Homo sapiens: one gene and its partner. The protein of the gene in region 2 interacts with the protein of the main gene of each other region in a pairwise test. Each region holds a gene or a part of one and is shown on either strand. Other genes may lie near its edges. The genes, in order: LRSAM1 and TNFRSF10C.

Region 1 (3,500 bases), on a different chromosome or scaffold from region 2:
GGGGCCCAGCTGCCCTCCTCCCCATACGGCCATACGGCCCTGGCTCTCAGGAGCCACAGGAACCCTCCAGACAGCCTGTCTCTGGTTACCATGAAGACAGCTGACCCAGCAGGGGTCAGTCCATTTACAGCGACCCCCGGAGACTGGCTGCCCTCCTGCTCAATGGCTCCCGGGCGGGGCAGCCTGTGGATCCCGGCCAGGATGGCCCAGAGCTGATGGAGGGTCACACGGACACGGCTTCTTGGTCCCTACCTTTAACATTGAGAGTCTGGAGCTGGGTCAGGTTCCCAATGGAACGTGGGAGCTGCATCAGTTGATTCCTTTCCACGTTTAAGACCTAAGAAAGAGGAAGAGGCAGCCAGGCGCAGTGGCTTATGCCTGTAATCCCAGCACTTTGGGAGGCCGAGGCAGGTGGATCACAAGGTCAAGAGTTCAAGACCAGCCTGGCCAACATAGTGAAATCCCATCTCTACTAAAAATACAAAAATTAGCTGGGCATGGTGGCACACACCTGTAGTCCCAGCTACTCGGGAGGCTGAGGCAGGAGAATTGCTTGAACCCAGGAGGCAGAGGTTGCGGTGAGCTGAGATTGCACCATTGCACTCCGGCCTGGGCAACAGAGTGAGACTCCGTCTCAAAAAAAAAAAAAAAAAAAAAAAAAAGAAAGAAACAGGAAGAGGTGACACGAGAACCCACACACAGACCACAGTGATGACCCCCGCACCCCTCGCCCTGCCGGGCCAGGGCACCCAGGCACTACACACACAAGCTCTTATCTCCCCCTACCGGCCCTTGAGGAAGACAGAAATTCTTGTTTCCGCTGGAGACAGGAAAAAAACTGAAGCTCAGGGTGGCAAAGTCACGTGCTCAGGAGAGCACAGCCAGGCCTTGAACCCCTTCTGGCTGAGGTTCCAGCACTTACACCGACCACAAAATGCTCAGTAACTGCCCCACCATCAGGGAAGGAGGGAGAAGGGGACTACAGACTTGGGGATCTGGGGAGGCAGCACAGGAGGCTCTAGTTCCCCTGGCCTTAAGGAAAAGGCTGCCCTAAGGCCGTGTGATCCACCCAAGGCCTCAGGCCGGCAGTGGTGCTGGGACTGAACCAGGGCTTGTTGGATTCCGAAGCTGTGCTCCCTCCAGAAGGTGGTACCTCGAGGTGAGCAAGGCTAGCAGGATGACACACTAACCATTAAAAATAGATGCAATGGGGGCCAGGCACGGTGGCTAACACCTGTAATCCCAGCACTTTGGGAGGCTGAGGTGGGTGGATCATGAGATCAGGAGATTGAGACCATCCTGGTGAACATGGTGAAACCCCGTCTCTACTAAAATATAAAAAATTAGCCAGGCATAGTGGTGGGCGCCTGTAATTCCAGCTACTTAGGAGGCTGAGGCAGGGGAATCGCTTGAACCCGGGAGGTGGAGATTGCAGTGAGCCGAGATCACACCACTGCACTCCAGCCTGGTGATAGAGCGAGACTCTATCTCAAAAATACAAACAAACAAAAAATGATGCAATGGAAAGCTAAGTAGCCATTAAAAATAATAAGATGAATATTTGATGAACCAAAGGATGCTATGAGTTATTGTCAGGTATCCAAAAGTTACAAATTAGTGAATGCAGCAATTCTATAAAAATACACCTACTGGCCAGGTGCAGTGGCTCATGCCTGTAATTCCAGCACTTTGGGAGGCCAAGACGGGTGGATCACCTGAGGCCAGGAGTTTGAGGTCAGCCTGGCCAACATGGTGAAAACAAGTCTCTACTGAAAATACAAAAATTGTCCAGGTGTGGTGGCGTGTGCCTGTAATCCCAGATACTCAGGAGGCTGAGGCATGAGAATCTCTTGAACCCGGGAGGCAGATGTTGCAGTGAGTTGAGATGGTGCCACTGCACTCCAGCCTGGGTGACAAGAGTGAGAAAAAAAAAATACACATACAAAAAGTCCTACACCAAGGTATTTATTGTGGCTCAAAGTGGTACAATTGGTCAGGCGTGGTGGCTCACACCTGTAATCCCAGCACTTTGGGAGGCCAAAGTGAGTGGATAACTTGAGGTCAGGAGTTTGAGACCAGTCAGGCCAACAAGGCGAAACACCATCTCTACTAAAAATACAAAAACTAGCTGGGAGTGGTGGCACACACCTGTAATCCCAGCTACTAGGGAGGCTGAGGCAGGAGAATCGCTTGAACTCGGGAGGCAGAGGTTGCCTCTGCAACTCTGATGGCGCCACTGCACCCCAGCCTGGGCAACGCAGTGAGGCACTGCCTCAAAAAAAAAAAAAAAAACCCCAAAGGGCCAAGGGGAGGGTGGAGCTGGCACTGATTGCAGCCTGCTTCCACTGGCTGGAGCCCGGCCAGAACATTCCAGGCTTGAGTGACTGCCTGGTCTCACTAAGGCCATCCGAGGTGGGTTTCTGTTTCTGCAGCCTTACCTGGAGGGCAGTCAGCTGCCCCAGATCGTCAGGAAGGGCTGTCAGCTGATTATCGTGGAGATCTAGAACCTGCAGAAGAAAGACCCCTGTGAGTCTCCAAGTGAGAAAGTCCCTCAGACTCCGGGCTCCAGAGCGCTGAGGAGGGGCTGGGGCCACCTCACACCCCCAGTGCAGAAACAGAGTGCCTGCCACTCCTTTCCCACTCAGTGTTGATCATTCCCGCCTCATTTTCCTTCTCAAACCATTATACCATTTTCTTATTTTATGTATATTTATTTTTACTGTTAACTGAAAAACTATGCTATAAAACAGTATGCCTAGATACTAATATGTTAAAAAGAAACACTCCATTGTATAAATATGTAAGACTTTCAAATATGCGATAAAATATTGACAGTGGTACTCCACAGTGTAAAATTATAGATGTTTCCCCCTTTGCTTAACTGTACTTGCTAATTTTTAATTTAATTTTATTTTATTTTGTTTTATTTTGAGACAGAGTCTCACTCTGTCACCCAGGCTGGAGTGCAGTGGCACGACCTCAGCTCACTGCAACCTCCACCTCCTGGGTTCAAGTGATTCTCGTGCCTCAGCCTCCCAAGTAGCTGGGATTACAAGCACAAGCCAACATGCTCTGCTGGTGTTTTTTTTTGTTTTGTTTTGTTTTGTTTTGTTTTGTTTTTGAGACGAAGTCTCGCTCTGTCGCCCACGCCGGACTGCGGACTGCAGTGGCGCAATCTCGGCTCACTGCAAGCTCCGCTTCCCGGGTTCACGCCATTCTCCTGCCTCAGCCTCCCGAGTAGCTGGGACTACAGGCGCCCGCCACCGCGCCCGGCTAATTTTTTGTATTTTTAGTAGAGACGGGGTTTCACCATGTTGGCCAGGCTGGTCTTGAACTCCTGACCTCAAGTGACCCACCCGCCTTGGCCTCCCAAAGTGCTAGGATTATGGGTGTGAGCCACCACGACTGACTGCTAATTTTTTAAAAATGAAAATGCACAAAAAAGGCCTTGGAGAAATATTTATACATGTGCACACACAGGTACCCTCCATATCTATGGA
Region 2 (4,024 bases):
TTTGAGATGGAGTCTCGCTGTCTCCCAGGCCGGAGTGCAGTGGCACAATCTCGGCTCACTGCAAGCTCCACCTCCCAGGTTCATGCTATTCTCCTGCCTCAGCCTCCCAAGTAACTGGGACTACAGGTGCCCGCCACCACGCCTGGCTAATTTTTTGTATTTTTAGTAGAGACAGGGTTTCACCGTGTTAGCCAGGATGGTCTCGATTTTCTGACCTCGTGATCCACCCTCCTCGGCCTCCCAAAGTGCTGGAATTACAGATGTGAGCCACCGTGCCCGGCCCATAATTTTCACGTTTTTTCTTTTTTTGACAGCTTTAGTGAGACACAATTCACATAATTAATAATTATGATTATTCATATAATTCACCCATTTAAAGTCCACACTTCAGCAGTTTTTAATATACTCATAGCTATGCAATCATCACTATAATCAATTTTAGAATATTTTTATCACTCCAGAAAGGAACTACATACCCTTCAGCAGTAACTCCCCATCTCCCTAACCCCCAGTTTTTTAATACAAACATTGAAAGCTGTATATTTCACCCTGAGCACTGTTAGCTATTTCGCACCACTTTTGATGTGTTATATTGTCATTATTACTTACTTTGAAATATCTTACCTTCCCTTTTGATTTCCTGTCTGAACCACAGATTTTTAGAAGTGTGTTGTTCAATATCAAAATTTTAGAATTCTCTGTGGATATTGTTACTGATTTCCAGTTTAGTTTCATTAAGTTTAGAGATCATATTGTGTGTTTTATAGCCCAGAACCTGGTCTATCTTGGTGAAAGTATCATGAGCATAGAAAGGAATGAGTGTTCAGTGAATGTTCCACTCCTGCTCTTTAAATGTCAGTTAAATCAAGGTGGTTGATAGTGTGCAGATCGCTTGCCACTTTACTGGCATTTTCATCTAATCATGCTAGCAAGTGCAGAGAAACAGCTGAGTTAATCTCTTTTTAATTCTATTTTTGTGTCATGTGTTTTGAAGATGTATTACTAGGCATATACAATTTGTTGTTATTATACTCCTTGAAGAATTAACCCTTTTAACTACAAAGGTCCCTTTTCATCTCCCATAATATTCAATGTCCTAAAATTGTCACAGTAGGCAGCTAGTTAGGTATGAGCAGGACAGGAGAGGGGTCCCCGCTTCTGACACCAGCAGTGTTGGGCGACCATCAGGTAGTTGATAACTGTGTCTCTAAAGTAATAACTGGTTACAGCCGATGCCAGAAAAAAGCAGTTTCCTAATACATAGAAAACACTTGAAACTGATCAGCAGCTTCCCAATAAGATTTCAGGAGTGGGGAGAAGTAAGGCAAGATCCTGGAAGTAGGCCAACCTATAAAACCCCAACTCAGGCGGTCCGGCTGCGTACTGTTTCTCAAGTCACCTGCTTGGCCATCTTCCAAGTGTACTTTCCTTCTTTTCTTTCTGTTCCTTCCTTTCCTTCCTGTTCCTTCCTTTCCTTCCTGTTCTAAAGCTTTTTAATAAACTTTCACTCCTGCTCTGAAACTTGCCTCCATCTCTGCTTCTGCCTTATGCCCCTCAAACCAGTTCTTTCTTCTCAGGAGGCGAAGAGCTGAAGGTGCTGTGGACGCATACGGATTCGCCGCCTTCAACGTAGGGTAACTCGGATCTCATCCACCGCTAACAAAATCAACTTCATCTGATACTGAGATAGCCATGGCAGTTTTCTTGGCCTTACACTCTGCATGGTGTATCTTTTTCCATCTATTTACTTTCAACAGACAACATCTGTGTCTTCCTTTTAAGGCCCATCTCATATAGACAAGATATAGTTGAGTCTTGCTTTCTCAGCCCTTCCAAACATTTCTACCATTGAACTGTAGTGCTCAGTGGATTTACAGGGAGTGCAATAATTGATATAGTTGAAATAGACCTGTAAGTTTACCATTTAAGCTATGATTGTCTAGTCTAATTTTTTTACTCCTTTTCCCCCTGCACATTTTAATGTTAATTACCTTTTAGAATTCCATTTTAATTGGATAAACTGACTTTTTATGCATACCTATTTCCATGATCTATGTGCAAGTGCTATAGGGAATACAGTATACACTCAAGTGTTTACATTCTATTGAAGGTTTTTTAAAAATGGATTCATTGAGGTATAATGGGCATGAAACAAAGTGTACATTTTTGAAGCATGTAGTTTGGTAGATTGAGACGTGTGTATACATTGTGGAACTACCACCACGATAAGAAAATGACATGTCCACCACACCCCAGAATTTCTTCATTCTTCAATGTAATCCTCTCTTCCGCTTTGCTCCTATGTCCCCAGCAATAATTCTGCTTTTTGTCAGAATAGATTGGTCGAATTTTAATGAGAAATGGAATCAGATGGTAAGCATTCTGTGTGGATTCCTTCACACGACATAATTTTCTGTGTTTTTCTGTTTTTCTGTTTGTTTGGTTTTTTGTTGTTGTTGTTGTGACCGGGTTTTGCTATGTTGCCCTGGCTGGTCTTGAACTCCTGGGCTCAAGTGATCTGCCTGTCTTGGCAGGACTACAGGTGTGAGCCATCGCACCCTGCCCACCCTGGTCAATTGACTATTATGAATTAAAGGCTATTGAAAAACAACAGGTGCAAGAAGATCCTTTGACCTCTTTTGTGTTTCCTAAAAGCAGGAGATGAAAGTCCCCAGGGAAACATAGGACAATCTCCTTTTTTTTTTTTTCTGAAAGCTCTGCTTCCCAGGTTCTCACCATTCTCCTGCCTCAGCCTCTCCAGTAGCTGGGACTACAGGCACCCGCCACCACACTCCGCTAATTGTTTTGTATTTTCAGTAGAGACGGGGTTTCACTGTGTTAGCCAGGATGGTCTCGATCTCCTGACCTCGTGATCCACCTGCCTTGACCTCCCGAAGTGCTGGGATTACAGGCGTGAGCCACCGCACCCAGCTGACAATTTCCTTATTTTTAAGGATGAGAAGTCGAGGCCAAGAGGGTACTGTGCAGACCATGTTAGAATGGATCCACTCTCATCTTTTTAGCTCCTCACATAGTTACTTGCTTCTTCATGAGTTACTTGGTCTAATTCAGTAAATAAGTAACTGACTCTCACAGGTTCTTCCATGCCAGGTAAAACTTGAATTAAATAAATGTGTGTGCTTGTCTCCTGTGGACCTCTCTTAGGTGAATCAAATTCTCAGGCCCAGCTAAAAAAAAAAAAAAAAAAATCGGGTGGGGGGGCATCTAAAGGAGAGCTTCGCTCCCCTCCCTGACCCTCAATGGTGACTGTAATCAAACCACATCTTCCAGGCCAACAGTACCACATCCTATGGCCCTGCAACAGCATGGCCTCTCTCCAGCACAGCCTCTCTGGAGGAGGGGGAGGCAAGGGTAGTGAGATCTCAGGCCTCCTTCATGCTACCTCCTATTAGTTATATAATCCCTGGGTCACCTCTCCCACCACACTGCGGGCTCCAGGGAACAGGATTCACATGGGGTTCATTTGTCCTCCCAAACTCCGGCGGACTCCAGGCACAGGTGTTCTCAGAGTAAAGGGCTCACTGTTTACTTCCTGGATGAATCACTTTCCCCTCAAGCCTATGAAGTGCGCGCAGTTGTGGCCTCAGCTCAAGGCCGAAGGACAGGCTCCAAGAGCCCTGTGAACTCTGCTGAGGAACCATAAGAGCTCCCAGAGGCCAAGGGCAGGACAGAGATCAGAGAAGCAGCTGCTCAGAGAACTCTAGCCCTGAATCTCATTTTACCACTTGTAAAACAGGAAAAACAACCTACCTTCATCTCCCCGGGTTGTTAGGAAATCCACTACATGAAGATGTGCATTCTCTGGCTGGAAGCAGGATACCAGCTGCCCAACGGCAGAGGCTCGGGGCATGGCACTGTCCCCACTGTCCCCATCCCTGACCTAGAAGCTAGAGCCTCACTGCCCTGCCACTCCTGGATACACGACAGAGGACCAGAACTGGGACTGTGGCCTCTCAGTACAGCCTGGGTGAGTAGCCATCTGCAGCCACCTGGATGGAGACAT

What was found.
Region 1: the proteins of TNFRSF10C (region 2) and LRSAM1 interact in a two-hybrid assay, tested with the Homo sapiens proteins (one large-scale study listed by IntAct).

Annotation. Positions count from the first base shown.
Region 1 is NC_000009.12:127,458,010-127,461,509, reverse strand, and holds part of LRSAM1 (E3 ubiquitin-protein ligase LRSAM1), read right to left. Parts: intron 2,508-3,500; coding exon 2,439-2,507; intron 338-2,438; coding exon 253-337; intron 1-252.
Region 2 is NC_000008.11:23,105,614-23,109,637, reverse strand, and holds part of TNFRSF10C (tumor necrosis factor receptor superfamily member 10C precursor), read right to left. Parts: intron 1-4,024. UniProt on the Homo sapiens protein: Receptor for the cytotoxic ligand TRAIL. Lacks a cytoplasmic death domain and hence is not capable of inducing apoptosis. May protect cells against TRAIL mediated apoptosis by competing with TRAIL-R1 and R2 for binding to the ligand.